Linked DNA regions of Homo sapiens: regions 2, 3, 4, 5 and 6 are each linked to region 1. Evidence: fine-mapped expression QTL. A gene starts in region 1. Each other region holds a variant in brackets. All regions are shown on one strand. Distances are between the middles of the regions. Region 1 holds the start of CTBS (chitobiase). Region 2 holds the start of LINC01461 (long intergenic non-protein coding RNA 1461). Region 3 overlaps SPATA1 (spermatogenesis associated 1). Region 4 overlaps LINC01555 (long intergenic non-protein coding RNA 1555). Region 5 overlaps LINC01461 (long intergenic non-protein coding RNA 1461). Region 6 overlaps SPATA1 (spermatogenesis associated 1).

What was found.
Region 2: its variant is fine-mapped to the expression of CTBS in prefrontal cortex (CommonMind, PIP 0.95).
Region 3: its variant is fine-mapped to the expression of CTBS in blood mononuclear cells (TOPMed, PIP 0.95).
Region 4: its variant is fine-mapped to the expression of CTBS in whole blood (TOPMed, PIP above 0.99).
Region 5: its variant is fine-mapped to the expression of CTBS in whole blood (TOPMed, PIP 0.99).
Region 6: its variant is fine-mapped to the expression of CTBS in whole blood (TOPMed, PIP 0.97).

What each region holds. Positions count from the first base shown.
Region 1 is chr1:84,572,385-84,577,460 of GRCh38, forward strand. CTBS (chitobiase) reads right to left here and starts at 2,056. Exons shown (of 7, transcript NM_004388.3): 1 at 1,855-2,056. The coding sequence starts at 2,031. RefSeq lists enhancers at 646-695, 1,409-1,508, 1,619-1,908 and a silencer at 2,069-2,188.
Region 2 is chr1:84,618,664-84,623,739 of GRCh38, forward strand. LINC01461 (long intergenic non-protein coding RNA 1461) reads right to left here and starts at 2,368. Exons shown (of 3, transcript NR_125761.1): 1 at 2,094-2,368; 2 at 70-221. RefSeq lists silencers at 2,171-2,240, 2,331-2,570. The variant G/T (reference allele first, on the strand shown) is at 2,088.
Region 3 is chr1:84,534,775-84,539,850 of GRCh38, forward strand. All of the region lies in intron 8 of SPATA1 (spermatogenesis associated 1), which reads left to right. Among named protein-coding and RNA genes, the nearest start is that of GNG5, 31 kb to the left of the region's middle. The variant T/C (reference allele first, on the strand shown) is at 2,102.
Region 4 is chr1:84,624,724-84,629,799 of GRCh38, forward strand. It overlaps LINC01555 (long intergenic non-protein coding RNA 1555), which reads right to left. Exons shown (of 3, transcript NR_027379.1): 3 at 3,507-5,076. Among named protein-coding and RNA genes, the nearest start is that of LINC01461, 6.2 kb to the left of the region's middle. The variant A/C (reference allele first, on the strand shown) is at 2,338.
Region 5 is chr1:84,592,917-84,597,992 of GRCh38, forward strand. It overlaps LINC01461 (long intergenic non-protein coding RNA 1461), which reads right to left. Exons shown (of 3, transcript NR_125761.1): 3 at 5,048-5,076. Among named protein-coding and RNA genes, the nearest start is that of CTBS, 21 kb to the left of the region's middle. The variant G/A (reference allele first, on the strand shown) is at 2,406.
Region 6 is chr1:84,541,937-84,547,012 of GRCh38, forward strand. SPATA1 (spermatogenesis associated 1) reads left to right here. Exons shown (of 14, transcript NM_001397487.1): 9 at 2,266-2,368; 10 at 3,698-3,823. Among named protein-coding and RNA genes, the nearest start is that of CTBS, 30 kb to the right of the region's middle. The variant T/A (reference allele first, on the strand shown) is at 2,046.

The DNA of each region.
Region 1 (5,076 bases):
AGATTCTATTTGTTTAAAAAATACTAAGAGCCTGTGATATAACAGATATCCTTAAAAAAAAAAAAAGCTGGGTGAACTAATTGAAAATATAAGGGGAAAATGCCATGTAGTCTAGTTTTTGTGTTTGAAAAACATAGAAAACGCCAGTAGAGAAAAAGACCATTTACCATGAAGATACAAATAAGCATAATTTTGCTTCTTTGAATAGTTGGTTTTCAAAGTGCCCACAGATATTGCCTAACCCACTAAGTATTGGGTACTACAGTAAATCTTTCAGGTTTTTTTTTTTTCTCTTTTTTGAGACATAGTCTTGCTCTGTCGCCCAGGCTGGAGTGCAGTGGCGTGATCTTGGCTAACTGCAACCTTCCGCCTCCCGCTCCGCCTCCCAGGTTCAAGCGGTTCTCCTGCCTCAGCCTCCCAAGTAGTTCGGATTACATGTGCCCGCCACCACGCCCAGCTAATTTTTGTATTTTTAGTAGAGACGGGGTTTCACCATGTTGGCCAGGCTGTTCTCGAATTCCTGACCTCAAGTGATCCACCCACCTTGGCCTCACAAAGTGCTTCTCAATCTCAAAAAGAGATTGAGAAAATTAAGAAATGTCTGGTTGAACTTTTACAGCTACTGTCCCCACTGCCTCTACCACCGCGCTGGGCCTCAGATTGTATAAAACATTTTAATTGGGAGGCCATTATGCTGAAACAGCTCCAACTGCCTTGGATTTCCTGCTTAAGCAAACTCCAGCCCAAGGTCAACAGTGAAAGGAAACTTAAGCTTAACCTATCAGAAACTGCCAACTAACCTCTAACTAGTAATTTTCCACCAAGTCATAGCTAAATAAGGCAAACAGTCATAGCCAACCAAGTAATTATTTTCCTTTGCTTCCCTGTTCGGCCTATAAAAGCCCATGCTACTAAAGCAGACCTCTCTGAACCCCTTCTGGTTTAAGTACTGCCGATTCATAAGTTGTTCTTTGCTCAAATAAAAAAGGTTATCCTACTTTGTCTGAAGTCTTTCTTTTAATAAGATGTTAGGTTTCCACACTAGGCAGGTTCTCCATAAACACTTTCACCATTTTTATTTCTTCTCCTAAGTCATGTATATATACTTTTTTACTGGCATCTAAGTGTTCTGCCTCAGATTAATGTACTAGATTAAGAACTAGGAATCATGCCTATTTCTACAAAAGAATCGTTCTTTGAATTAAGCCTTTGGACCTTCCTGATGTCATCCAATTCCTGCTTTCAGTCATCGAAGTGGGCAGTCAGGTGGTTTTAATATTGCTCCAGAAGGTGTTTGATTAAAGTTGCCAGAAGCCTTACAAATTGTTATGTAGATAGAAGGAAAATGTACTGAAAGCTATTTTTTTTACCACTCTTCATGGGTGGTTTTGAGGTACTTTAAAGGAAAGGGCTAGCAGGTATAGAAAACTAAAGGTAAGCAAAATACTCTGCATTCTAATGTACTGTTGGAGTGCTGAGATTCTTTCAAACGAAATCCTCGTTCCTTGGAAACATAAATGGATTATCCTACCTTGTTTGCTTTTTACACCCAGAGTGCTTCCGCAGAGGCACAGCAGGGGAATGAAAGGAGCTTGCCTTAGGAGGCAGATCTGGTTTGAACTCTCGCCTGCCTACGCAGGCACTTACAGGCTGTGAGGCCTGAGGAGTTACTCAACTTCTCTGAGCCCGAGCTTCCTCATCTATAAATTGAAGGATCCGTAAACAGGAAGGCCCTCATCGAGTGGTCAAAGCTGGTTTCGGCGCCCACGGCACCTCTCCTTAGGGCTCCGTTCTACCCTAACTTCTCTTCGTGCCCTGAAGCCCAGACCTAGAGGAGCAGAGGAAGGCGCTGACCTCGAAATCTGGATGGTGGCGAATCGGGCGGCAGAGCTCAGGCTCCGGGCATGGGCAGTCGGTCCCGGCCGCGAGCCGCAGCGCCAGCAGCGCCAGCAGCGCCAGCAGCGCTAGACCCGGGACGCCGCTCGGCGGGCTAGAGACGAGGCGCCAGCGTCGAAGCTGCGGCCGGGACATAGCAGCAGGTCTAGCGGGCCGGAGTGGGTTCCTACCGCCTGGGTGGGCGGGGCCTGCTGCGCGTCGGGGCAGGAAGGGGCGGGGAGAGTCGGGAAGGGCGGGGAGGGGCGGGAGGGGCGGGGCTCCGGGGCGGGCGTGGGAGGTCGGGCTTCGAGCGTCCCCGGGCGCTACAGGTGGGTGAAGTTAAGTGGCTGCTGGAGCGTCTCGGGGGACAGCCAGTGTCTGCGGCGCCGAGAGGGCCGTTCGTGGACTCAAATGGGTATCACCCCTACCGTTTATAGTCCTCCCAATAGTCTGCATCTCGTTTTGTCGTGGCTGGTCGTGTACTCCTTGTGGAGTCTGAAGGTACAAGGGGATCCCCAAAATGGAGAAGTGGGTGTCTTTGGAAGGGCCTACTGAGTAACATGGTTGGAGTGGCCAAAAGACTTTGTTTTTCTTTTGCTACTCAAAAGAAAGCTGGAATACCAAAAATTTTTACTTACGGATATCAGGTCTTAGTTAAGATCGTGGTTTGAATTCAAGCATCTAATTTTGCCTACTCTCCTGTTAAAAATCAAGTTTAACAACCTAAACACAAGGACAAAGAGATAACAGCAACAAAATGTTGGAAGCTGGAGAGCACAAGTATGAGTATGAGAGGTAAATCGGAAAAGGGGGAGATTAGTCAAAGGCTGCTCAAGGACTCTGATCGCTAGATCCTTTTTCCAGCTTCATGTCTCTGGGCAGCTGCCCCTCTTTCCCACCACGGGCTCCCACCCCGGCTGAATTCCCTGAAGGGGATAAATTCTCTGCTGAGTGGGTATTCCACCTAAAACGGAGAATAAGTGGCTTTATGCCTACTGAAAACTGAAACCCCTCGCTATCTGATTAACCTAAGAGGCTGAGCAAAGATACTGACATCGGGTTTTCTGGACAAATCATACACCCAGATCACCCTACAGTGAAATTCAAAGTTAAAAGCACCAGCTATCTACTTGGAGCTTCCTCTCTTTGTACTTTTTAATTTTTACTTTTAATCATGGACAGCAACCAAAAAAATCCAATAATGTAGAAAGAAGGGACCCAAACAACAGACAAAGGAATATGGAGGAAGCAGATGCTGCAGGGAGAACACTTTTAAAAATTCTCATAATAGCCCCAGAAAAATAAGAGAAGATGAAGCCACAACAGGGTGCAATAAAAGGGGTAGGGGATTTTTAAAAGTTAATAGAAATAAGAAAGAAGTGAAAAAACTATTAGTAGAAGATAACACTGAGGAATGTAGAGCAAAAACTCTGAAAGATAAGAAAATTGGAAAACGCAGTACAGAGGGGATGAAATAAATAATTCTTAAAGGTGCTTGAGAAGCAGCGTAGTACAAATAAGAAGAAATAAGTAATTTGGGCTGGGCACAGTGGTTCATGCTTGTAATCCCGGCACTGTGGGAGGCCGAGGTGGGCAGATCACTTGAGCTCAGGAGTTTGAGACCAGCCTGGCCAACATTGTGAAACCCCATCTCTACTAAAAATACAAAAATTATCTGGGCATGGTGGCAGACACCTGTAATCCCAGCTACTCGGAAGGCTGAGGCAGGAGAATCGCTTGAACCTGGGAGGTGGAGGTTGCAGAGATCACACCACTGCACTCCAGCCTCAGCAACAGAGTGAGACTCTGTCTCCAAAAAAAAAAAAAAAAAAGAAAAGAAAAGAAATAAGTAATTATCAAGGCTCCAGGACTGAAGAACACGCGTTTTCAGAATGAAAAGCTAGGCCAGGCACTGTGGCTCACACCTGCAATTGCATAACTTTGGCAGGCCAAGGCAGGAGGATTACTTGAGGGCAGGAGTTTGAGACCAGCCTGGGGAACATAGACCCTGTCTCTACAAAAAATAAAAAGCAAAAAATTAGCCCTGTGTGCCAGTGCGGTGGTAAAAGCTTGTAGTCCCAGCTGCTCGGGAGGCTGAGATGAGAGGATTGCTTGAAGCCGGGAGGTTGAGGCTGAAGTGAACTATGATCATGCCACTGCACTCCAGCCTGGGTGACAAAACAAGATCCTGTCTCAAAAAAAAAAAAAGTACAATTGAACCTCCATAACCAGAGGTTCCACATCCATGGTTTTAACCAATGTCAGATAACAGTATTTAAAAATAACAAATAATACAGCAATTTAAAAATGCAAATAAAAATACGGCAAGAGCACTGTCAACATAGCATTACATCGTATTATTATAATTAATCTAGAGATTATTTGAAGTACAGGAGGATGTGCATAGATTATGCCATTTTATATAAGGGACTTGAGCATCCATGGATTTTGGTATCTGGGAGTCCTGGAACCAATCCCTCATGATACTGAAATGTAACTATGTTTTTAACATGAATGGTTGCACTGAATCAAGTTTTCAAGGAAAAGAGCCTTCTGACTCATAGAATCAGACTGTATTCTGTGACACAGAAGAAAACACATATCTACCTGTGTTAGGGATCCCTAAGATCACCTCCAGGTTCAGTGATGCACTAAAAGAACTCATAGGACTCAGTTGTACTCACAGTTAAGATTTATTACAGCAGAAGAATATGAAGCAAAAGAGCAAAGGGAAAAAGTGCACAGGAAGAAGACAGGAGGAGGCCAAGCACAAGCATCACGTTGTAACATGTGTGAAGGGCTGTCTGCCATGGAAGCTCATTAGAGACTCAGGGAACAGCAGGAACACTCCCAAATCCACCTACAGGCCAACCTTCAGGAAGCAGGCCTTTCTAAAGATCGCAGTCTTAGGCCTGTTACGGTAACTCTTTTCTGCATACTAACCAAATGAGGAATTCCTACATATTTGTATTGAATTTTATATTGGTGCTGTACATTCTATGGGCTTTGACAAATGTATAATGATGTGTATCCAGCATTATAGTATCATACAGAATAGTTTCACTGCCCTCAAAATTATCTGTGCTCTACCTATTCATTCCTCTCTCCTTGCTAACCACTGGCATCCACAGATTTTTACACTGTCTCCATAGTTTTGCCTTTTCCAGAATGTCACATAGTTGGAATCTTACAGTATATAGC
Region 2 (5,076 bases), 46 kb after region 1:
TGTTAACCATTTTAATTTACCTTTAAAATTGTGATTAAAAAATACATGTATTTAAAATAAGTCACTTACATGTACAAAGTCAAACCAGAACACCCCTGCCCAGCAGCATGCCCAAAAGGGGAGTCTCTCAGGCTTTGCACACACGCTTCTCACAAATGCCCCAGTGCAGGCTTTGGTTTAGGGTTCCATGTGCTAAGAATACAGCATCAAAGGCTTTTCTGCTGGGAAGGAAAGGAAGAGACTTGTAATGTCTATATAGCTCCCAAAGACAAAAAGACTCTAGGTTGATTAGAACAAGCTTCAAATCAGAACTTGGGTTTTCTGCCTTCAAAAATCAAAGAAAATTTTAAAAATTGCTTTTGAAGATTCAAAAAGAAACAATGCGGCCGGGCACAGTGGCTCATGCCTGTAATTCCGGCATTTTGGGAAGCCGGGGCGGGCAGGTCGCTTGAGGTCAGGAGTTTGAGACCAGCCTGGCTAACATGGCGAAACCCTGTCTCTACTAAAAATAGAAACATTATTAGCTGGGCGTTGTGGTGGGCGCCTGTAGTCCCAGCTACTTCGGAGGCTGAGGCAGGAGAATCGCTTGAACCCGGGAGAAGGAGTTTGCACCTAGCCGAGATCGGAGATCATGCTCCTGCACTCCAGCCTGAGCAACAAAGCAAGACTCCATCTCAAAAAAACAAAAACAAAAAACAAAACAAAACAGAAAAAAACAAGACAGAAAGAATGCCCCTTTGTAAAGGTTTTTTTAAATTCACAGAGACTTGATAGCATCACCATTGTGTTTGTTATTTCCCAGAAGCCAGCAGGGAACGTTCTCTGCTCCTGGAGCTGGTAAAAATACAGGAAGTAGCCAAGGGCATTATAATCATTAGTCACTGAGATACAAACCTTCAGTTCTGTTACCCAGGGAACCTAAAGTGCTGCTTGGTGTAGGTGGGAGATGATTAATCTCTCCGTGCACGATAAAAAGACAGAGCTGCCACCCGGAATTAGTCTGTTTATGTAGAATGAGGACAGCCCCAAGAGTAGATGGGATTTAAAAATAGTAACAATTCTCCCCCAACCCCAAATACACCATTTCTGAATGTTGTAGAACATTCAGGAAACAAGAATCATTCATAATTCTACCCCTAGAAGTTACCAATGTTAACATTTTGATTAATACTGTAAACAGAAAAATCAAAGTCTGTAAAATATCTGAAAGAGAGGCTTAGTCAAGCCAGTATGAGTAACCTCCGCCCCCGGAAAACAACCCAAGAAGCCTTGAGTAAGTGGTCCCGAGGCAGCCGCATGTGTTTGGTTTTATACATTTCAGGAGGGCAGGAGTTACAGGCGAAGACAGAAATCAATACAGGGCACATATACATTAGTTCAGCAGAAAAGGCAGGCTATCTTGAAGTAGGGGGCTTACAGAGGTAAGCAGGGGTTTTATAGATGATAGGCAGATTCAGAGATTTTTAAAATTTGCATTAGAGGAGTAAGGCTCTAAAACTTGGAGTCAGCAGAAAGGACTGATTTTTAATTTTTATTTATTTATTTATTTATTTATTTATTTATTTATTTATGACAGAGTCTTGCTCTGTTGCCGGGCTGGAGTGCAGTAGCGCAATCTCGGCTCACTCCAACCTCCGCCTCCCGGATTCAAGTAATTCTCCTGCCTCGGCCTCCCAGACAGCTGGGACTACAGGCGCTTGCCACCATGCCCAGCTAATTTTTGTATTTTTAGTACAGACGGGGTTTCACCATGTTGGCCAGGATGGTCTCAATCTCTTGACCTCATGATCCGTCCGCCTCGGCCTCCCAAAGTGCTGGGATTACAGGCGTGAACCACAGCTCCCGGCCGAAAGAACTGATTTTTTAAATACACGTTATTTGAATTTTTCACAACTACATATTATTATGTATTATCTCCCTCCCTCCCTTCCGTCCTTCCTTTTTTGCAAAACCAATGCAATCACTCTTGGGGTCTCGGGGGCAATGGGATCACGTCAGGCTCAGGCGCTCCCCTGGGCGCACGCTGGGTGAACAAGCCGCCTCCGGGCGAGGGTGGAGCTCCAGCGGGGAGGCTCTGGGCGCAGGAG[G/T]CTTACCAAGAGGAGTCCGCGGCAGCCCGGGCCTGCCCCGCGGGCTGCTCTGGGCTACTGGGATCTCACCCCGCGCTCGGCGAGGCGGGCCCGCGGCGCCCTCTGCAGGGAAGCGGGTGGCGCACGCATGCTGGGCGCTCCAGTATTTGTGGCGGGGTGGGCTTCTGGTTAGGGTAACATCTGCATCTCCGCTTCACAGCGTACAAGGTGCCTTCCACTTTGCGCTGGCTCTCCCGCGACCCTGGGATGCCTTCTGTCCTCCACCGGAGAGGACGCTGAGAATCGCCGTTCCTGGCGAAGGGCTAGAACTCACCAGCGCCCGGCTCCATAGCGCCCTCTGCCGGGGCCGAGGGGCGGGGCACGCGGGCGGCCGAGCGGGCGGGCAGGGAGGGCCTCAGATCCCCCTATCCCCGCGGGAGGGGCTGCCAGCCTGGGTCAGCCACGCGTGGCTTCCTGAGACTGGGTTATGGCTATTTCCCACCTCCTTGCCTCTCCCTCCTTATTTCCCTCCACCTGTGTGTGTGTGTGTGTGTGTGTGTTTCTAAAGCAAAAACAATTTTTTTTTCTATTCTCCAAAGTAATGCGTATTCATTATAAAAAAATTTTTTTGGGGGGGTAGAAAACACAGCATAAAAAAGAAAATGAAATACCTTTAATCTCATCATTCAGAGATAAACACATGTTTAGGGTATTTTCTCCTAGTGTCTTTTTCTATACACAATTATATATCATGGTAAGTATATATTTAAACCAACCAGGCAATGCTGTCGAGGAGTCAGGCCCCGTGTCGAACTGGCGCCGTTGAAGAGAACACAGAACGGCCAAATGGCAGGGAGTAGGGGCTCCCTGGCCTTAAAAACGGGGCCTTGCTGCTTCTTGGTTTGATAAACTGCTCTGGTTCCCAAGAAAGCTTGTCTTTTCCTCCTCAGCTGTTGGCTGGGGGTAAGTAGGTGGCGGTGGTCAGTGGGTCCCGGGAGGAAGAAAACTTGGTCTCAAAGTTCACTTTCATAACTAGAAGGCTCGGGCCGGACGCGGTGGCTCACGCCTGTAATCTCAGCACTTTGGGAAGCCGAGGGGGGCAGATCACTTGAGGTCAGTAGTTCAAGACCAGCCTGGCCAACATGGTGAAACCCCGTCTTTACTAAAAATACGAAAAATTATCTGGGCATGATGGTGGGCGCCTGTAATCCCAGCTACTCGGGAGGCTGAGGCAGGAGAATCGCTTGAACCTGGGAGGCGGAGGCTGCAGTGAGCTGAGATCGTGCCATCACACTCCAGTCTGGGCAACAAGAGTGAAACAACGTCTCAAAATAGGAAAATAAAAAACTAGAATGCTCAGAGAGTATTTCATCATATGATGGAACTTCAGCCCCCATCCCAACCCCTGGACCCATGCTTCTTCCTGCTGAGTTTCACTGACTACATGCCTCCCTCCTAGGCTGTGAGTTCCCGACTGGGGGAACAGTCTGGGCCTTTGCACCTTTTTCCTTCACCTGGCAGAGTGCTGAAGTCTCTTTGGTCACTGTCTTTGTCTTTTTTTTCCTCCACACAAACACTCTTTCATATAGTCATGTTTCTGATTTGCCAATGTCACCCCAGATAAGCACACAAGCTAAATGAAAACAATGTGTTTGCTTTGCACATGCAGTGTCAAAACAATGCACCCCCATTCCTTCCAGCTAGATTGGGCCCCCTAAGTGACACTCTTCCTTATGGAAATTCTGAACCTGCCCCTCTCTGCAGGATGTGGTTAGAGTTTGGATTACAGTCATTGATTTGGGAGTGGTGTATCTACTTCACTGTTTACATGTAGCATCCTAGGCTCTGCTTCTATCTCTCTCTCGCTCTCTCTCTTTCTCTCTTTCTCTTTCTCTCTCTCTCTCTTTCTCTCTCTCTCTCTCTCCCCTTCTTTTCTCCCTGTCTGGTCATCTGCAGCCTGATAGAGGCTGAGGCAGAGAGAAGAGCCTGTAGGAAAAAAACCATCTTTGGTGGTGATGATGATGTGGTGTGTGGAGATACAAAGTCAAATTCTCCAATGTTTCTATCCCCATGAAATGAAGTCTCTAGTGAGATCAACATTGCTCAGCAATGCTTAGTAGAGTATATTTTCCTGTGTGGAAGCATGAGGAAGGGGTGCATTCCCCTTCTGCTTGGTAAAAATAAAGGCATCAGGAAGTATTGGGTTGGTGTAAACGTAATTGCAGTTTTTGCCATTAAAAGTAGTGACCAAAACCGCAATTAATTTTACACCAACCTAATACAAGCCAGCACCTGGGTGACACTGGTAAGACTGGTGGACCATGCCTGGTCTGGCCAGTTTGCGTTTTTAATAGAGTCAGCGAGTGGGGTAGAAAGTCTGCAGTATTCAGTTAAAGGCCCAAGTTCTTCTTAGTCTGCTTATTAGCTATGTGCTTCTGAGTAAATTACCTAACCTCGCTTAAGCTTAGTTTGCTCATCCCAAAAGGAAATAAAAATATTACCTGACAGTTATGTTTCCTGATTGCTGTGGGATTCAAATGAGCTAGAAGGAGGGAAGTTGTTGTCTTGAAGCAGCATTAGTAGATTTTCTAAACTTGGTAGCATTACACCTCCTTACATTTGATTCTCCCAAGCCTGCTGGGTAGCTTGATGGAGGAAACATGACAGAACTTGACTGCACGTAGTGGCAGTAACTCACACTTGCCCAGATTTTGAACTGGAATCATCTTTATTGCAGTTGAAAAACTAGGCTTAGAGAGTTTGAACAACTTGCCCAAAGGAACATATCTTGGCCATGAAAGGGCCAGTACCAGAATGTAGCACCTAAGACTTTTAGATGGTACTTCCACCATCTCCAGTAGAAGATGGGAAAGGAGTGTTCCTTGGGATTGCCCAGGGCATGACTGTCCCCTTGCAAGGGACACAGAGAAATGGGTGGAAGATGTCAGATTCTTAAGTGTTCACTAGTGGGAGGGTGAGCCCATTATTCTCTATGCACTTAGAATCTTTT
Region 3 (5,076 bases), 38 kb before region 1:
AAAGTTACATTAATTCTTCCACGGTTATGTCTTTCATACCCATTGGACAAAATTCCAACCATAGTTAATAAATCACAAACTTCAAATGAGTCTTTAATTGTGCCAACAAATATACTACATTTTCTTGGTCCATTACTATTCTTCTAGACAACTCTGTCATACCTTCTCCTCAGACAATCAAGACCTCCTTTCTCTTGCATTCTCAGTGATAATTTTTGTTAAATAGAGGTAATTTGAAGAGAACCACGAATCTCAAAATTTTATGTACAGAATGAGGTTGTGGTTGTGGTTCAGTTGAGATCCTCAGATACCCACCTCCTACACCATTTGTTAAGACTTTATTTTTCCTATTGCATTATTCAAAACTCAGTTGACTCTATAAGATCTAGGACAACTTCTAGCTTCCCTTTCTGCTCAATGATTTTTTTTAATCCTTACGCCAATACCACATTATCTTCATTACTGAGGCTTTATAAGTAGTTATTGTTATCAGATAGCGTAAGATTTCCAAGTCAATTTTTTTTCAAGATCATTTTGGTGATTCTAGATTCTTTGTGTTTTCATATACGTTTTAGAATCAGCTTGTCAATTTCTTACCAAAAGACTACTGGAATTTTGAGTGAAATCACCGTGAATCTGTCAATCAATTTGGGAGGAAAACTTATATCCTAACTATACTTAATCTTCTAATCTGTGAACACAATATATTTCTCTATTTATGTCACTAGTTTCTTTCAGCAGTGTCTGTGGTTTTAGTGTATTGCTCTTATATCTTAATATTACATTTATTTTTAGATATTTGGTATTTTTGAAGCTTCTATAGAATGGTATTTTAAAATTTTTATTTTCTAATTGTTGCTAGTTTATAGAAATGTAATTGATTTTTATACATTGAACTCATCTATTGAGATTTTGCTAAATTCAATTAGTTCTATCAGGTTTTTTTTTTGTAGATTCTTTAGGACTTTCTACGTACATATTCATGTCATCTGTGAATAACAATAGTTTTACTCTTTCTTTCTATTTTTGTTATGAATTAAGTGTTTTTTCCTCCAGCTTCCTGAGTGTGAGAAGTTGTAATGGCAATAATAATGATGGCTTCTTGCTTTCAGCGTAGTTCTGGTGATGGCCTCAACAATGGTAATTTCACTAATGGAAACATCATTTTAGGAGACCAGACCTAGAACCTGCTCCTCCAGTCTTTCTGATACACTTAATTTCCTTTATTACATTTCTTCCTGCTTAAACCTGCACTGAACTGATTCAGTATTTGGTACAGAAAGTGTGACATGGGCCAAAAACTTTTACAAATGAGAATCTCAGACTGGTTATTGCAAAAGAACTGCAATATTTTGTTAATTCATGCTAGTAGAAACTTAGAAAAATATTATTGGAAATAGATTCAGAGCAGGAATGAAAGAATATAACTTTAAATTGGCTCAAGTTTAATAATATGGATACACTTATCAGAGATTCTGGATTTAATGTGCTAGCTCCAGCAACTGTGAGTGGTAAAAAACATTTTGCTAAATTGAGTGAGGCTGACAGAAACCTGGACAATATGGTGGTTCATACTGAGTAAATTTAGAATGCCAAGAATTTCTTGTTAAAAAGTAGAGCAAGAAATCCGAAGACTTGGGGATATAAAAATGTTAAGAGGAGATTTATATCCACTTTTTTTTCTTTTGAGACGGAGTCTCGCTCTGTCGCCCAGGCTGGAGTGCAGTGGCGCTATGTCCGCTCACTGCAAGCTCCGCCCCCCGGGTGCATGCCATTCTCCTGCCTCAGCCTCCCGAGTAGTTGGGACTACAGGTGCCCGCCACCACGCCCGGCTAATTTTTTTGTATTTTTAGTACAGACGGTGTTTCACCGTGTTAGCCAGGATGGTCTTGATCTCCTGACCTCGTGATCCGCCCGCCTCGGCCTCCCAAAGTGCTGGGATTACAGGCATGAGCCACCGCACCCGGCCCACTTAATTCTTTAACCAGACATTGGGGAAATATATTGGAAAGGCAACCCCAGAATTCTTTTAAAAAACCTTATAGTGGCTGTTTTGTGTCACATGGAATGAAGATAGGACTATACTTGATTTGTTTTTTCT[T/C]TTTTCTTTTTTTTTTTTTTTTGAGATGAAGTCTCACTCTGTTGCCTAGGCTAGAGTGCAGTGACACCATCTCAGCTCACTGCAACCTCTGCCACCCAGGTTCAAGCGATTCTCCTGCCTCAGCCTTCCGAGTAGCTGGGATTATAGGCACCTGCCACCGCGCCCAGCTAATTTTTGTAGTTTTAGTAGAGACAGAGTTTCACCATCTTGGCCAGGCTGGTCTTGGACTCCTGACCTCGTGATCCACCTGCATCGGCCTCCCAAAGTGCTGAAATTACAGGCGTGAGCCACCACGCCCGGCCTACTTGATTTCTTTAGAGATGACAGTATCCCCGAAGAAGCCAATTTACAGCATTTTACTATATAAGAGAAAACAGTACCAGAGTGATCATAAGGATGTATGATTAAGAAATCCTTGACAATAGTTAATTGCCAAGGTGTCCCTAAGACTAATCATGATGTTCCTGAGACTGAAGTGGATAAGCTATTGGATAAGCTTTGGATAGCTTACTGAAGCTACCAGTAAGCTATTGGTCTGTAAAACCAAAAATTATTTTTAGTCTTCACAAATAGACGTCTACCTTGAATAACCACATGAAGATTCACATCCCCTTATTAAATTACGAGACCTTAGCCAGTTTACATACCCAGAACTTATTGAGTGAAGGGGAGGCCAGGTATCCTTGAGGAAAAACCCTGTCACTCAGCCACAAATATGGACTAAATTTCCTTACCTTCCTAAATTTCCTTTACCTTCCTTAAGGGGATGAGAGGTTGTTTACCCAGATGACTACAATGGAGAAAGGGAGGTACCCATACTTTTCAGGATTCATGGCAATGGCTTTGATGTGATTCTGATCGTTGGGGACCTGAATAACTCTGTGTTCCACCAATAGGGTGGAGGTTTAGAGGGGTCAGATAATAAGTGAAGTTTTAGCTAAATCAGTCTTCTGGTGTGCTGAATGGCTTTGCAAATTCTCCCTGTAGCCATTCCCTTAATTCATGAATGTATACTTTGAAGGACTTACTCAGCAAATGGCAGAATCCTCATACTGCCTCCCTGATGCTTGCAGCATGGGCAATAAGGAATGTTATAGTAGAGAGGGCCAAGTGAAATATGATGGAATGGCCTATTCATTACCAAAATAGTAAACCAAAGCATTACCAACCTCCTGGACAAATTGTGGGTTTTGTGCCATGATCAAAACTTGAAAATGGCAGAAAAGGTTATTCCTGTCATAGCCACATTCAACTCACCTAGTTGGTCTGTGGAGAAGATTAATGGGCCTTAGTGTCAAGTGGTGACAATTGTAGCTGCTACTCCTTACATCCTCTCTTTATTAGAACAAATTATTACAGCCTGATGCTCCTATTATGCCATTCTTAATCTGGAAAATGCTTTTTTCTTCATCCCAATTAGCAGAGAAAACCAAAAGTAGCAAATAGGAATAGCAGTAGACCTTCACTGTTTTGCCTAAGGGCTGTGTCAATTCTGGCTCCTTGTCGTAATCTAGTTTATAGGCAACTTGACCATATCATGATCCCCTTGGACCTGATAAACAGGAAATACCAAATAATCTAGATACCTTAGGTAAGACATATGTTTCTTAGGGGGTAGGAGATAAGCTGCAAGAAAATTTAGGAGTCTATCAATTCAGAGAAATTTCAGGGAGCTCCATGGTCTGCGACATGTTGAGGTATCCCCTTGCCCCAGCTACTATTGAGAATGAAACAAAGCACTTTGTGGACCTTTTTTGGAATTTGTAGAGAGATTTACTGCATTAGGATGTGCTGCTCTATTTTTTATTTAAACCAACTGAATCAGAAGCCTGCCAACTTTGAGTGGGACTTAAACAAGAGAAGGCTTGTAAGGTGATCCCAGAGGGATTGCAAGCAATGCTGCCACTTGTGGGGTTATTGGTTTTGGTTTTGGTTTTGCTTTGAGACAGGGTCTCATTCTGTTGCCCAGGCTGGAATGCAGTGCAGTGTTCACAGCTCACTGCAGCCTTGACCTCCCAGACTCAATCCATCCTCCCACCTTAGCCTCCTGAGTAGCTGAGACTACAGACACATGCCACCACACCCAGGTAATTTTTGTATTTTTTTGTAGAGTTGGGGTTTCTCCATGTTGCCCAGGCTGGTCTCCAACTCCTGGACTCAAGCAATCGGCCCTCCTCAGCCTCCCAAAGTGTTGGGATTATAGGCATGAGCCACTGCACCCAGCTCACTAGTGTTTTAATGTCTGTCCAGATTATCCAGTGATGCTTGATGTATAGTAGATTGGAATGCTGAATGGAGTCTGTACAAGCCCTGGTAGGAGAATCACGGCTCTAAGCCCTTGGGTTTGGGAGCAAAGGCATACCATCTTCAGCAAATAATTGTTGTTATATTGTTGCTGGATACTTTTATTGTTTCCAAATTTTACCTATTATAAACAGCACACACAAACAAGAGAGGAATATATACTTATGTGTAGAATTGCTGGAAAATGTCTATCTATAACTTAAATAATGCCAAAATGTATTCCAAAATGATTATACAAATTTACGCTCCCGCTAGGAATCCAAGACATTTCCTGTTACTCTACATCCTCAATAATACATACTGTCTTCACACTTTAAAATGTTTTCCACTCTGGTGGATGCTCAATGCTATTTAACTGCAGTTTGAATTTTTTAATTTCCCTGGTTACCCTTATATTTTATGGACCCCATTTTGATAACCATTTTTTGGGGGGGTTACCTGTTTTAAGTATTTCTATTGGGTTGTCTGCCATTTATTTCTGGTTAGTAGGAGTTTTTAATATGCTCTGGAAGATAGTCCTTTGATGTTTATGTGTGTTGCAAATATCTTCCTCTACTTTGTGGCTTGTCTGTGGTTTACCTTGCTGAATACATCAAGTATTCCATATTCTTAATTTTTTCCACATTCTCTATGTCTCGGACTGAGAATGGTATGTTAGAATCTCCTTTTAT
Region 4 (5,076 bases), 52 kb after region 1:
CTTGAAAATAAGAAGCAGGAACATTTAGAGATGACTTTTGAGGACAGGATAAGGTGAAATACCTCACCTAAAGTCAGAACTTTCACATTAGGATTTATTCGTCTCTTTTGCCCAGGTGCAGAGGATGATAAACAGCTTTCTCACTGCCCGTGCTAAGTGCTCATTGTGTTCAGGGGTGAGTCTTGCAGTCTGTGGCTCCTGTGACTGTGAGCACTGCTCAAGGACCAGTTTGGACACCCAGCCACCGGGAATAGAGCTCAAGCCACCATGCAGTTAATCGCTGTAGCTGAACCAATGTGTCCAGACAAAATGAACTATCTAAGATGATGTTCATGTGCACACAGGCACACACCATGCTGTCCCTGAGGGATAACCCTTTTGCTGTAGGCTTCTTTGAGAACCCCTTTTCCGAGCTACCTTTCTCACTGCAGTTGGTGACAGTGGGGGCACAAGGACATCATGCACATGATCCTGTCCTCAGGGAGAGAAGAAAATGAGGCTCCTAGAGCAAGCCCCGCCAAACTGAGCCAGTGCTAGCTCCGTTTACCCAGATATTAAGTTAAGCCAATTATATAGTACAATAATTCATCTTTTGAAAATTCACTCTCAGCCTTTGGGGAGCTGTGAATAGGATTTCTGCAAAGGTTGTTGTTTAAGGAGAGAGCCTTCTTCTCTCCAGTACATATGAGCAGAGCAAAAGATAGGTAGGGCCTGGAGGCAGCATTTTCAGAGCTTCTACTATCTCTCCTGCCATCAGCACTACTGCCCCCATTCCCCTCACTTTCCTTTGTAGTTTATTAGGGAAAAAAGGGGTTTCTCAGAAGGTGGACGTACATGCACAGGCAGCTTCCAGAAAGTACTCAATGCAACCCTAATATTCTGATTTGGGGTACCTCATTTCTGACCACCCTCCCCCAGCCAGGGTCAGGCAGCAATGGGTTAAGCTAACTATTTTCTGCAGGAATTCCAGGAGAAACGCTTTAGACAACTCCTTCCAAACCTCAATGAGAAGAATATCCTGTGACTTCAATGCGGAAGTGATCAATTTCAACCTGCAGGTAAAAAGCTGCTATGGTTTGAATGTGTCCGCTAAAAGTTTTGTGTTGGAAACCTAATCCCTCTGTTCTCATAAATTGATTAATGGTGGCTCCGCTCTCATGAATGAATGGATGTCACCATCGTGGCTTTTTTTGTGAAAGCAAGCTGTGGCTTTCTTGCTCTCTTGCCATGTCATGCCCTCTGCTATGTTATGATGCCGCAGGAAGGTCCTCACGGATGCCAGTGCCATACTCTTGGACTTCCCAGTTTCCAGAACTGTGAGCTAAATATACTTTCTTTCCTTCATAAATTACCCAGTCTGTGGTATTCTGTTATAGCAACAGAAAACGGACTAAAACAAGAGCCATCCAGTTTGGAGAAAGCCAACACCAGCAATCCATCAGTAGCCTGTGATCCAGGGATATGCGGGATGTAGAGTTACTTCATTGCCATTACCATGGTCTCTGAGGTGGTGAGTTCTGAGCTCCTACAGCACTGCTGCAGTGGGTCATTTCTGTTTCTTGTTTTTTGTTTTTATTTAGTGGGTCATTTCTTGATAGCAGTCTTGCATCTCAGGTGAGTGTTTTTTTCCTCCAGTCCTCACATGGCGATGTTTATGTGCACAGCACACATCCTCCATGCTAATAGTTAAACCATACCTATCTCTCTCAAAAAAACACAACAACAACAACAACGAATAAACTGCAATCGTGTGGGAATAACAGTAAGGATACGATTGAATTGGGCCTAAATTACGTTAGAAAAACAATGCATTCACAAGCATTAATACTGTATCGTAGTTAATTTCCTGCCACATAGCTGTGGGTGAGAACCACTGGCCTGGTCCATGGGATTGGGTTTCTGCTCAGATGCTGTGAGGACTAGAACCTGAACATCACCTGAATTCCTGACCACTTCCATTGCCAACTCCATCTCCTGGTGGAATGAACCCTTTGCCTTGTATTTCCAAATGCAGGTTGGCATCCTACACTGCAGATTGGGTGGGCCACATTGCCAATGCACTTTCAGCCATTTGTTACAGACCTCAAAGCAAATGCAATGAAAATTTCATATTTCAAAGTCCATTTAACTTATAATTAAAGAGCTTCACCTAACCTCCAATTGGAAGTGATTAATTTGGAATGTAATGGCATCCTAAATGACAAATATTAAGCCAATAATCTAATTCTATAAACACCTTCCAAACAATAAATATGTTCAATTAAAATGATACGTTCATGGAAAGATGTTGGTATTAGGTAGAACCTATCTGTGTGAAAGGACATTTTTAAGGACAAA[A/C]TATGTAAAATCTCATTGCAAGTTGACATTAACCAATTAAGATTTGCAATTAATTTTGATGGTAGAGAAAAGTAACTTTAAAACTGATTACTGCTATTTTGTTATGAATTTCATCAATAAGAAAATTGTGGAAATTTGTTTTCTCTCTTATTATGTAAGTAACTACATTAATATTCTCGATTTTACCTCTCGGTTAGCAAAGCTTAAAATATTTATTATCTGGCTCTTGAGAGAAAAAGCTTGCTAACCCAGCTGTAGTCTAATGTATCCTATGTACCTGGAACTGTGTCTAACATATAGTAGACACTCTGTCAACATTTATTGTATGACTCTGTTCTGAAATAAATAATAAAAGAGACTAAACATTAGGAATCAGAATGCTTCTTTAACAATTTTAAGTAAATGATATTCTTCTTGTAACAATTTTTCAAGAGGTCTAGAGTTGTAATCTAAACACTGTCAGTGGCACTAGGGTTCACTTTATATATTTTATTATTTTAAGACATAATCAGTTGGACATAAATCATAAATAACAGCTTTTCAGAAAAACAAGCCAAGTATGTTTAATGTATACATTGAGCATAAAACATATTCCAGTTTCATAAACTTTAAAATGTTAAAATATTCACACACACACACACATATATATATATATATTAGTGTGTGTATATGTATGTATGTATATACATGAACAAAAAATTAGGAAGTCAGATGATATTTCACATGTTCCCTGCAGTTTGGGAATAACCTTTAAGTCCAGGTAAAATAACTATCCCCGAGTCATCTAAGGACAGGAGCTGCAGTGTCAGGAGAATAAGAGTTTGTCTTGTCTCTTATCTAAGCCAAGGAAGAGGCTGTATATTCGATGTGATCGGAGTCCCCTCCACTTCCCAGAACTTGGCTGGGGAGGACGTACTTATTAATAAATAAGTATATTATATATTATGTTAGAAATGATCATTACAATAGGAAAAAAGATAAAGCAGAGAAAGGTAAAGGGATATCAGGAATGTCAGGGGTCGGGGGGTTGGTTTGCAATTTGAAGTAGGGTGGTCAGGATAGGCCTCATTGAAAAGTAGTAAAGACTTGAAGTAGAAAAAATATAAATGGCTAGTGAAAATGTGAAAAAAAATCTTCAAGTTCAGTAGTAAAAGAAAAAAAAAGACAAGAAGAACAAGAGAATATTTTATTTATAAAACCAGCAAAGGTAACAGCATAAAAAATACCCAATAGTTCTATCGTGTAGTGCTAGTGGAAATGTGAATTAATAAACATTCTTTCTGAGGATCATTTGACAAAACATAACAAAAGCCTTAAAAATATGCGTATTTCTTGGTTTAACAATTCCAATTTCAGGAATTTATCCTAATCAAATAAATAAGCAAGTATGCAAAGATATATTCTTTAAAAATCTTTATTGTCTAACTAGGAAAAATTAAACAATTATTAACCATTCATGCAGTGGCCCACCAAGCAACAACTAATAATGATGTAGATCTATATGTATTGACCTAAAAGATCCCCACTAAACATGTGTGTGTGTGTGTGTGCGTGTGTGTGTGTGTGAGAAACCCCCTGGAAACTCTCTGGATACTTGCAGGGTGATTTGCCTATATTTTTAAAGTTTTCTTCATGGAATATGGAAATACCATGGGTCGAAAGCAAATGCCATTTGGGGATAAGACTGCCATGCAAAGGACCTTGGACTTCCTGCAGGAGAGAAGAGGGTCATTGCTAGGAGACTCCCCTCATGGTGTCCATGAACATGGAGCCCTGACACCATGTTGTTTCTGAAAATGAGCCAACGTTGACATGGTCCTGGCCCACTGGGTGTTGTTCACTCTGTTGATTACTTTTGGAAATTACTTTAGGTAAATGCCATGCTTGACAGTTGGTTTTTAATTTTAAACACAAGCTGCCATTGATTTGCTTTGATTATTCCACGATTTCAATCACTTTCCCAAAACTTTGTCTTCCTTAATTTTCCTGTATCAACCAGATGAAGGTGTTCACAGAGGGATACTCAGAACAGTGTATTAACAATAGCTCTGTCTACGAGTTGGCCGTTAGACACACTTATAAGGGATGCTGATGTTCCAGGGAAGGATCCTGTGCTAACTGATAGGTGCCAAGCGTTCTGGTTTTCACTCTGCCTTACTGGGCCTCTCAAGTTCACAAGTGTTCTCAGAACAAATCCTTCAAGAGCCAATCCTTCAAGATGGATCCCAAGTACCTAACTGGGCCAAAATTTTAAAGAGAGCCAAGTGGCCAGGCCATTTGCTGACTAGAACTCATATACTCGGAGTTTCCCTGGAAACCCCCAACCTCAGTTTAACAGTGGGGCTTTCAGAGCTCACCTAAAGCAGCCAATCAGAGCTCATCTGAAAGAACCAATTAGGGCTCAGTTCTAACCACTAATCAGAATGCAGCTGCATCAACCAAACAGAACTAAGCAAATTTAAAGCCTTCATTTTCATAAAATGGACCTGATTGGCAACCTGAGCATGAACTTTTACTATAAAACCAGGATCCTCCCTTTGTTCTCTGGAAAGTAACTGGTTTACACAGAAAGTTTGTGAACTGTTCCTGAATGAAGTCTTTCTTCCAAATTTCTTTTCAGAGAACTTTTGTTCACAGATCCATGCCAGGGCAGCTATGCTTTTATTCGATTCACCCAATGGGGCACATGCCAGCTAAATTAGGCCCCTCCCCCGAAATCTAGCCCAAGATAATGAAATG
Region 5 (5,076 bases), 21 kb after region 1:
TAGATTGTGCCACTGCACTCCAGCCTGCGGGACAGAGTGAGACACTGTCTCAGTGGTGGCACACTCCTGTAATCCCAGCTACTCAAGAGGCTGAGACAGGATAATCATTTGAACCCAGGAGGCAGAGGTTACAGTGAGCCAAGATTGCGCCACTGCACTCCAGCCTGGGTGATAGAATGAGACCCGGTCTTAAAAAAAAAAAAAAAAAAAAAGCTTATCCACCATAATTAAGGAGCTTTCATCCTCAGGATGCAAGGTTGGTTCAACATATGCAAATCAATAAATGTGATTTATCACATGAATAGACCTAAAGACAAAACCCACATGATTATCTCAATAGATGCAGAAAAGGACTTGATAAAATTCAACATCCCTTCATGTTAACAACTCTCAATGAACTCAGTATTAAAAAAACATACCTCAAAATAATAAGAGCTATATATGAGAAACCCACAGCCAATATCATACTGAATGGGCAAAAGCTAGAAGTATTCTCCTTGAAAACTGACACAAGACAAGGATGACCTCTCTCACCACTCTTATTCAACATAGTACTGGAAATTCTGGCCAGGGCAATCAGGCAAGAGAAAGAAAGAAAGAAAGGCTATTCAAATAAGGAGAGAGGAAGCCAAACTATCTTTGTTTACAAATGAAATGATCCTATATCTAGAAATCCCCATTTTCTCAGCCCCAAAACTTCTTAAGCTGATAAGCAACTTCAGCAAAGTCTCAGGATGCAAAATCAATGTGCAAAAATTGCTAGCATTCCTGTATGCAAACAACAGGCAAGTGGAGAACCAAATCATGAATGAACTCCCATTCACAATTGCCACAAAAAGAATAAAATACCTAGGAATACAGCTAACAAGGGAAGTAAAGGACCCCTTCAAGGAGAACTACAAACCACTGCTCAAAGAAATCAGAGATGATACAAACAAATGGAAAAACATACCATGCTCATGGATAGGAAAAATCAATATTGTGAAAATGCCCATATACTGCCCAAAGCAATTTATATATTCAATGCTTTAATAAAACTACCATTGACATTCTTCACAGAATTAGAAACAACTATTTAAAAATTTATATGGAACCAAAAAAAAGCCCGAATAGCCAAGACAATCCTAAGCAAAAAGAACACAGCTGGAGGCATCATAGTACCCAACTTCAAACTATACTACCAAGGCTACAGTAGCCAAAACAACATGGCACTGGTACAAGAACAGACATATAGACCAGTGGAACAGAATAAAGAATCCAGAAATAAGGTTACACACCTATAGCCATCTAATTTTCAACAAACTTGACAAAAACAAGCAATGGGGAAAGGATTCCCTATTTAATAAATGGTGCTGGAAGAACGGGGTAGCCATATGCAGAAAATTGAAACTGGACCTCTTCTTTACACCATACACAAAAATCAACTCAAGATGGATTAAAGACTTAAATGTAAAACTCCAAACTATAAAAACCTTAGAACAACCCTAGAACAAAATCTAGGCAATACCATTCAGGACATAGGCATGGGCAAAGATTTCATCATGAAGACTCCACAAGCAATTGCAACAAAAGCAAAAATCAACAAACGAGATCCAGTTAAACTAAAGAGCTTCTGCACAGCAAAAGAAACTATCATCAGAGTGAACAGACAACCTACAGAATGGGAGAAAATTTTTGCAATTTATCCATCTGACAAAGGTATACAAGGAACTTAAATAAATTAACAACAACAACAAAAAAATTAAAAAGTGGGCAAAGGACATGAACAGATGCTTCTCAAAAGAAGACATATATGTGCCCAACAAACATATGAAAAGAAGCTCAACATCACTGATCATTGGGGAAATGCAAATCCAAACCACAATGAGATACCAGTCAGAATGGCTATTATTAAAAAGTCAAAAAACAACAGATGCTGGCAAGGTTGTGGAAAAAAAAGGAACGCTTTTACACTGTTGGTGGGAGTGTAAATTAGTTCAACCATTGTGGAAGACAGTGTGGCAATTCTTCAGAGACCTAGAGGCAGAAATACCATTTGACCCAGCAATCCCATTACTGGGTATATACCCAAAGGAATATAAATCATTCTATTATAAAGACACATGCATGCATATGTTAATTGCAGCAGTATTCACAACAGCAAAGAAATGGAATCAACCTAAATGCCCATCAATGATAGACTAGATAAAGAAAATATGGTACATATACACAATGGAATACTATGCAGCCATAAAAAATGAGATTATGTCCTTTGCAGGGACTTGGATAGAGCTGAAAACCATTATCCTCAGCAAACTAATGCGGGGACAGAAAGCCAAATACCACATGTTCTCACTTATAAGTAAGAGCTGAATGATGAGAACACAAGGACACATTGTGGGAAACAACACACACTGGGGCCTGTC[G/A]GAGGGTGGAGAAGATAAAAGGGAGAATATCAGAAAGAATAGTTAATGAATGCTCGGCTTGATACCTAGGTGATGGGATGATGTGTGCAGCAAACCGCCATGGCACACGTTTACCTATGTAATAAACCTGCACATCCTGCACATGTAGCCCTGAACTTAAAGTTTAAAAAAAAGGCAACAAAAAACCTTTCCTAAAGATTTGATCTTACATCAAGTAAACCCCAATTATTTTTGAGGAGTGCGTCTTCCTTCAAAATAACAGATTATACTCTCAAAGCTTTAAAAATAAAACACCCACACTCATACACACAAACTGTGTCAGAGAAACATTTCCAGACTGTTAGTGGCACTTCTGTAAATTCTGTGAAAAGATTTTGTGTCCTATTATATTCTTGAAAAATATTTTGGTTTTTTAGGATTCAAAAAATGAAAGGTTTCAAAAGCAAAGACAGTAGCAAAAGCGGCAGCAGGTCAGTGACACCTCGAGCTCTGACACAGCAGCAGCAGCTGCCACCTCAACAGCAGCCTCCATGGCCACGAACTTGTGTTATGTGAAACATAATTTTCCATATAAAATTATATTTAATATTTAAAAATAATAGAGACATGATAGGGAATATTAGAATCCAATTTTTCTACTTGAATTTTTCTTTTTCATTATAGAGCCCCATGTTATGGTTGAGCATGAGAAAAATGGTTTCATATTAACAGTCCCTGATTACAGCATTGAACTTTATGATGAAAAACCATGCAAGGTCCTCCTTCCTGTACTACTTTAGTCCAAATAACCATCACCTCTCTTTGGGCTGGCTGTAATAGCCTTCTATTTGAACCTCTTATTCCCTCAAAGCAGCCAGAAGTATCTTTCAAAATCATAAATCAAATCTTACCACTTTCCAGGTGGGTGTGGTTGTGCACCCCTGTAGTCTCAGCTACTGAGGAGTCTGAGGCAGGAGACTCATTTGAACCTTGGAGTTCTAGTCCAGCCTGGGCAACATAGAGAGACCTCATCTCAAAAAATTGAAACAAATAACAAAAACAGAAACGAAAAATGAAAAAAAAATCTTACCACTTTCCATCACATTCCAAATTAAATACAGAGTCCTTACCGTGGCCTCTAATGCTCTTAAACTCTGGCAGGTCTGGTGTCTGGTGAGGGTCCAGTTTCTGCTCCCAAATGGCACCTTTGTGCCACATCCTCACATGGCAGAAGGCTGAAGGGCAAAGAGGGTTCAAACCATGTGTGAAGGCTATTCTTTAAGGGCTTTAATCCCATCCATGAGGGAGCAGTCCTCATGACCGGATCACCTCCTAAAGACCCCACCTCTTAATAGGATTGCTTTGGAGATTAAGTTCCAACATGAATCTTGGAGAGGACACTTTCCAATCATAATAATGAGGAAAAATGAATACTTTAGTAACAATTTCTTTGGGCCACAGACACAAATCAACCGATTTGACCACGTTTTTCCAATGAAATGACAACCTTAAATTGATCATTTGTGATGTCAGGTAGTCATTTTGGGATATTTATTTCTTGCAATAACCTTTTGATGGAGTTATTATGACTCCCATTTTACAAACGATACAACTGAAGCCTAAACAGGCAAAATGACTTTTTCATAGTCACACAGCTAATAGCGGTAGAGCTGAAAATGAAAATCTCCTGATCCTTGATGTTCTACCATCCCGGGTCCTACTTTAATTGGGAAATGGCAACCTCATTCAGCTCAGTGAAGGCTGGGTCACTTGCTAGGTTACAACTTCAGTGATCAGGGCACTTCAGTGGCTCTTCAGAGTTCATTTGTATATAAGTGAAGCTCTCCCTTTTGTAGACTTCTCTCTGTGTAAGTACAAACCAACCAGAGGCATGGCTATTGCTTTCCTGTCACTTAGGAATGAAATTAATGACTCCTTTATGTCCCATGCCAGGCAATCATCTCAATAGTTTGTGCAAGCTTAGCTTATCTACACAATATCAAACAGGCAATCACAGTTCTCCCATGATGCCAGGCAAAACAGAACTTTGTTTCTCCTACATAAAAGAGCACAACATCACAGGTTTAAAACCTCTCACCCTCAGTTTCATCTCACTATTATTGTGTTAAACATGCTTAATGAAAAATCTGGGCTGGGTTCTTTTCTGTCTTCCCACAATGAAAGTCACAGGAATGGAAACTCGGTTCCAAATGTTTCCATGTGGAAATGAAGTTGAGAGAAAGCAGTCTCATAAGTATGTGTTAAGTGCCTGTGGAAGCAGAGTCTCATGTTAGACGCAGTGACATTCAGGAACAAATCAGAACACATATTCTTGGCCTCCTGAGCTATCATTGTTGTTTGAAGAATGGAGCATTTACCATCTAATAAAAAAGTGAAAGCCTAACACACAAAATCAATTTTAAGACAAAGGCTAGGACTTCTCAATTTAGAAGAGGAGATACTTGAATTTTTCTCACACATCATCCCTCACCAGGGCTCCTGAGTAGAACATCTCAGACAACGTAGGACATAATTTGAAAAGTACTGATCAAATCAGTACAGCACTGATTAAAGAGCAGGTATTGAGTGCCACGCCCATTGGGTGTTGATCCAGGGAAGAAGCTGGGAGCCCTAGTCTTGGAACCCACCTGAGGATAGCCTAGAATGTCGTTCATGTACATAGTCTTCAACC
Region 6 (5,076 bases), 30 kb before region 1:
TTTTTTGTTTGTTTGTTTTTTTGTTGTTGTTGTTTTATTTTCATTTTTCTTGAGATGGAGTCTCGCTCTCTTGCCCAGGCCTGACTGCAATGGCACGATCTCAGCTCCCTGCAACCTCCATCTCCCAGGTTCAAGCAATTCTCCTGCCTCCCGAGTAGCTGGGATTACAGGCGTGCGACACCACACCCGACTAAGTTTTGTATTTTTAGTAGAGACGGGGTTTCACCATGTTGGCCGGGCTGGTCTTGAACTCCTGACCTCAGGTGATCCACCCGCCTTGGCCTCCCAAGAAATGCAGTTATTTATGTTTCTTTTTTTAAGTAAATGGGGCCTTTTGGGGAAATGGGTATGTTTTCTTTGGATTCTTTTCCACTAGCTTAGTTCAGTGGAGCTCTTGCCTTGGCCATTTTCTTCTTTTTTCTTACCAAACTGGCTCCCAAGGACATCTCTCCCTTTCAAAGCATTTTCTTCTCTCCCAGAAGCTATGTCTTACCATGATTACTGCCTCTGACTCCCTGTGTTTTTCAAATCCTTTCTTTTGAATTCCTCATAGAATCTACCAGGTTTTTTTTCTTTGCTCTATTTTTCCACTTCAGGTAGAGCCCTCTCTTTCCAGGCTAACTCGTGATTGGTGTTTGCTATTATTTATGTACAGTGCTGACACATAGTCCATATCTGACTCTCTGCTCAGATGTGGGCTCCTGACCACACTCTGATCTAGTAGTCTTTATTTCCTCACTTACATGTAAAGGATTCTGTGCCCAAATTATGTTGTAGGCATAAATTTGGGTGGTTTTACTTGGCTTCTTTTTATGGTAGTTTGGAAGATTTGTGGAGCAATTCTAATTTAGGTGGCTGCCATTATCCTGTGGGAACTCAACTTTATAACATAACAAAATAAATAAGCTAGAAAAATAATACAGTACTCTGCCCTTTATCTGTCGTTCCAAGACCCCCTGTGGATGCCTGAAAACACAGATAGAACTCAACCCTATATATACTATATATACTGTGTTTTTTCCTGTACATATATACCTATGACAAAGTTTAATTTATAAAGTAGGCACAGTAAACAATAACAAAAACAATAATAATAAAATAGAACAATTATAACAATATACTATAATAAAAGTTATGTGAATGTGGCCTCTCTCTCTCTAAAAGTATCTTATTGTACTGTACCGTGGGTAACTGAAAGCACAGAAAGTGAAGCTACAGATAACGGGGACTAACTGTAAGACAAACAAAATAGAAGTGAGAGCTTGATGAAGATAAAAGTGAAAACTAATGAGGTACCGAAGCATAATTGAAAACAATTCAAGATCGATAAAGTGATAGTGGGAGAAACATCAACATGGTAAGGCTTGAGGTAATTCATCAAAAAGGGTAGATATTAGTCTGTTCTCACACTGCTATAAAAAATACCTGAGACTGGGTAATTTATAAAGAAAAGAGGTTTAATTGGCTCACGGTTCTGCAGGCTGTACAGGAAGCATGGCATCATCTGCTTCTGGGGAGGCCTCAGGGAGCTTTCAATCACGGTGGAAGGCAAAGGGGGAGCAAGGCTGGAGCAGGAGGAAGGAGTGGGGGAGATGCCACACACTTTTTAAATGATCAGATCTCACAAGAACAAACTCACTATCAGGGGAACAGTATCAATGGGGAAATCTGCCCCCATGATACAATCACCTCCCACCAGGCCCCACTTCCAACACTTAGGGATTACAATTCAACATGATATTTGGATGGGGACACAGATCCAAATCATATCAGGTAGAAACACAAAAATTAGGAAAGATGAAGGCAACAGAAACACAAACACAGAGGAGATAAGATATATTAGAATAAAATGTAAAATTATCTGCTAAAATTTTGACATGTGACAGAACTACCAATTTTCTAAGCAAATATAATCAAAATTGACTCAAGATGAAAAAAATATTAATAGGCATCTTAGAAAATATTTAAAGTTATCATAACAGGTAACTGAGACCAGAAATCTTGGAAGGAAATCATGTTTAGAAAGAAAAATAACAGATTTTTTT[T/A]AAATTTTAAGTTTGAAGTACTTGTTTATAATGTCCAAGTAATAGAATACAGAGACCAGAACATGGGAGAGAATCTGCAGCTATAAATACAAAATTTGGAGTTCATCACCACTAAGTAAAAAGAATGCATTTCTGGTTTGCATTATCAAATACCTACGGGCAAGTGAAAAAAGAATGTGACAGTGTAGCCGATCTTACTCATTTTCACGTTTGCTTACAGACAGCTGAAAAAGAGTACATCACCCTACCAGATCACCCTTCACTTCCTTGTCAACCTGTTCTTTCTTCAGGAATAACTGATATATCTTTATTACAAACTGAAAGTAAGTATAGTGCAATCGTAAGTACAGATGATTCTGTGAGGTAAAGTAAATAATGTTAATGGGGAGTTACTGTTTAATGGGTATAGAGTTTCAGTTTGAGAAGATAAATAAGTTCTGGAGATGGGTGGTGGTGATGGTTTCACAACAGTGTGAATGTTGTGCCACTGAACTGTACCATTTAAAAATATTTTAAATGGTACAGTTTGTTATGTAATATGTTCTACAACAATAAAAAAGTTAAATTATAGGAATTTTATTTTTATTTTATTTTTTTTAGACAGAGTCTGACTCTGTTGTCCAGGCTAGAGTGCAGTGGCGTGATCTCAGCTCACTGCAACCTCCGCCTCTCGGGTTCAAGCGATTCTCCAGCCTCAGCCTCCCGAGTAGCTGGGATTACAGGCGTGCACCACCACACCTGGCTAATTTTTGCATTTTTAGTAGAGACGGGATTTCACCATGTTGGCCAGGGTGGTCTCAAACTCCTGGCCTCAAGTGATCCACCCATCTCGGCCTCCCAAAGTGCTGGGATTACAGGTGTGAGCCACAGCACCTGGCCCAGGGATTTTATATTTATTACTACATATGTTTAGTCACCAACATTATTTCATTTTAAAATATATATTCTGGCCAAGCATGGTGGCTCATGCCTGTAATCCCACACTTTGGGAGGCTGAGGTGGGTGGATCACAAGGTCAGGAGTTCGAGACCAGCCTGGCCAACATGGTGAAACCCCATCTCTACTAAAAATACAAAAAAATACAAAAAAATTAGGCGTGGTGGCAGCTGCCTATAGTCCTAGCTACTTAGAAGGCTGAGGCAGGAGAATCGCTTGAACCCAGGAGACAGAGGTTGGAGTGAGCCAGTATTGCACCACTACACTCCAGCCTGAGCAACAGAGTGAGACTCCATCTCAAAAAAATATATATATATTTATATATCATATATATATCATATATATATAATCCTAAAATATACATTTTCTATGTACGATTTAAGTACAATAATTTTGAATCCCAGATAAATTTACCAAAAGAGTTAAACCAAAGAATATCAGCATAACTGCTTGAGCTTTACCTAGTTTCTACACATATATGAAATGCAGAAAAAACACACTATTTTATAAATCTCCTTATATATCACTCTTGGAAACTGAAATGACTCCTTTGCATTTTCCACATGGTAAATGCTATACTGTAGCAAGAAAAACAGTTTGGGATAAAATTTATTCTTGCTGCTTTAGACATTTTTAAGTTTTACACTCCATATTTTAGGATATGAGCCATCTTTCAGCTTTGAGACATTGATGAATATGAGTTATAATCTCTTTAGGAGAGAAGATTATCAAACAAATGAAACAAGTAAAGGAAGAAAGAAGGTATCTGGAAAGAAATAGAGAAGAACTAGTAAAAACGGTTGAAAAGCTATTTGAACAAAGCAAATTAAAACGATATCATGGTAAAGTTTATTACATACCTTTTATCACTATAAAGAAAACTTAAGTTTTACAGAATTGATCCTTTTAGAATAAATAATAAAGTTATAATTAATATTTACTGTTTTACTATTTTAGTTTAAGTGGTACATGATTAAGTTCAATATAGAAAACATGAAATTATTATGCAACTCTACTTTATAGAATAAATGCTTTACATAGGGTTTAAAATTAAAACTCAAATATTTTCATAACTGAAACTCATTAACTTGTTTATTAATTCTTCTATTCATTTATCAAATGCCTATTGAATCTGGCCACTATTCTAGGGGCTTAGGAGACACTATTAAGACAGACACAATCTTGTCCCTGCCCACATAGATCTTACAGTCCAGTGGGGAAATGATAAGCAAGTTAAGCATCAATGATACATCCTTGCCAGCGCAGTGGTTCATGCCTGTAATCCCAGAACTTTGGGAGGCCGAGGCAGGCGGATCATTTGAGGTCAGGAGTTCGAGACCAGCCTGGCCAACATGGCGAAACTCCGTCTCTACTAAAAATACAAAAATTAGCCTAGCCAGGTGTGGTGGTGGGCACCTGTAGCCCCAGTGACTGCAGAGGCTAAGGCAGGAGAATGGCTTGAACCCAGAGGCGGAAGTTGCAGTGAGCTGAGATTGTGCCACTGCACTCCAGCATGGGTGACAAAGCAAGACTCTGCCTCAAAAAAAAAAAAAAAAAAAAAAACTTGATGAAAACTATGATAAAGGAATTACAAAGTTCTATGGATAGGAATACAAAGGGAGAACGCCTAAATTAGATGGAAGAGATCAAGAGAGGCTTCCAGGAAAAGTGTTGGATATGCTAGGATCTGAAGTACACTCTTGGTTCTAGGTCTTCGGGCATGCTTTTCCCTCTGCCATCTACTTCTCCTCTTACCTTGAGGTACCCTCTTCCCAGTTTACCTGCCTATTTCCTATTAGTCAGTCAAGATCACCTTATATATCACTTACTGTAGAAGCCTACTTTGAGTCCCTTGGTCTCTTCTGTACTTAATTTTTTGATATGTGTGTGTGTGTGCCTTGCTTTTAAAAGTGAATGAATGAGGGAAGTTAAGTAAGTTTTCTTGCAGTACAATTAGAAACAGTGTTGTTAGGACTGGTGGACTGATGAGGCAGGATGAAGACAGTACATGATGGTGGCTTGAGAGTTGCTAAATTATTTGAGAGGCCTCCGTTTTGGGTTGTGTTGAGGATTATAAGGATAAAAGGTATCTATG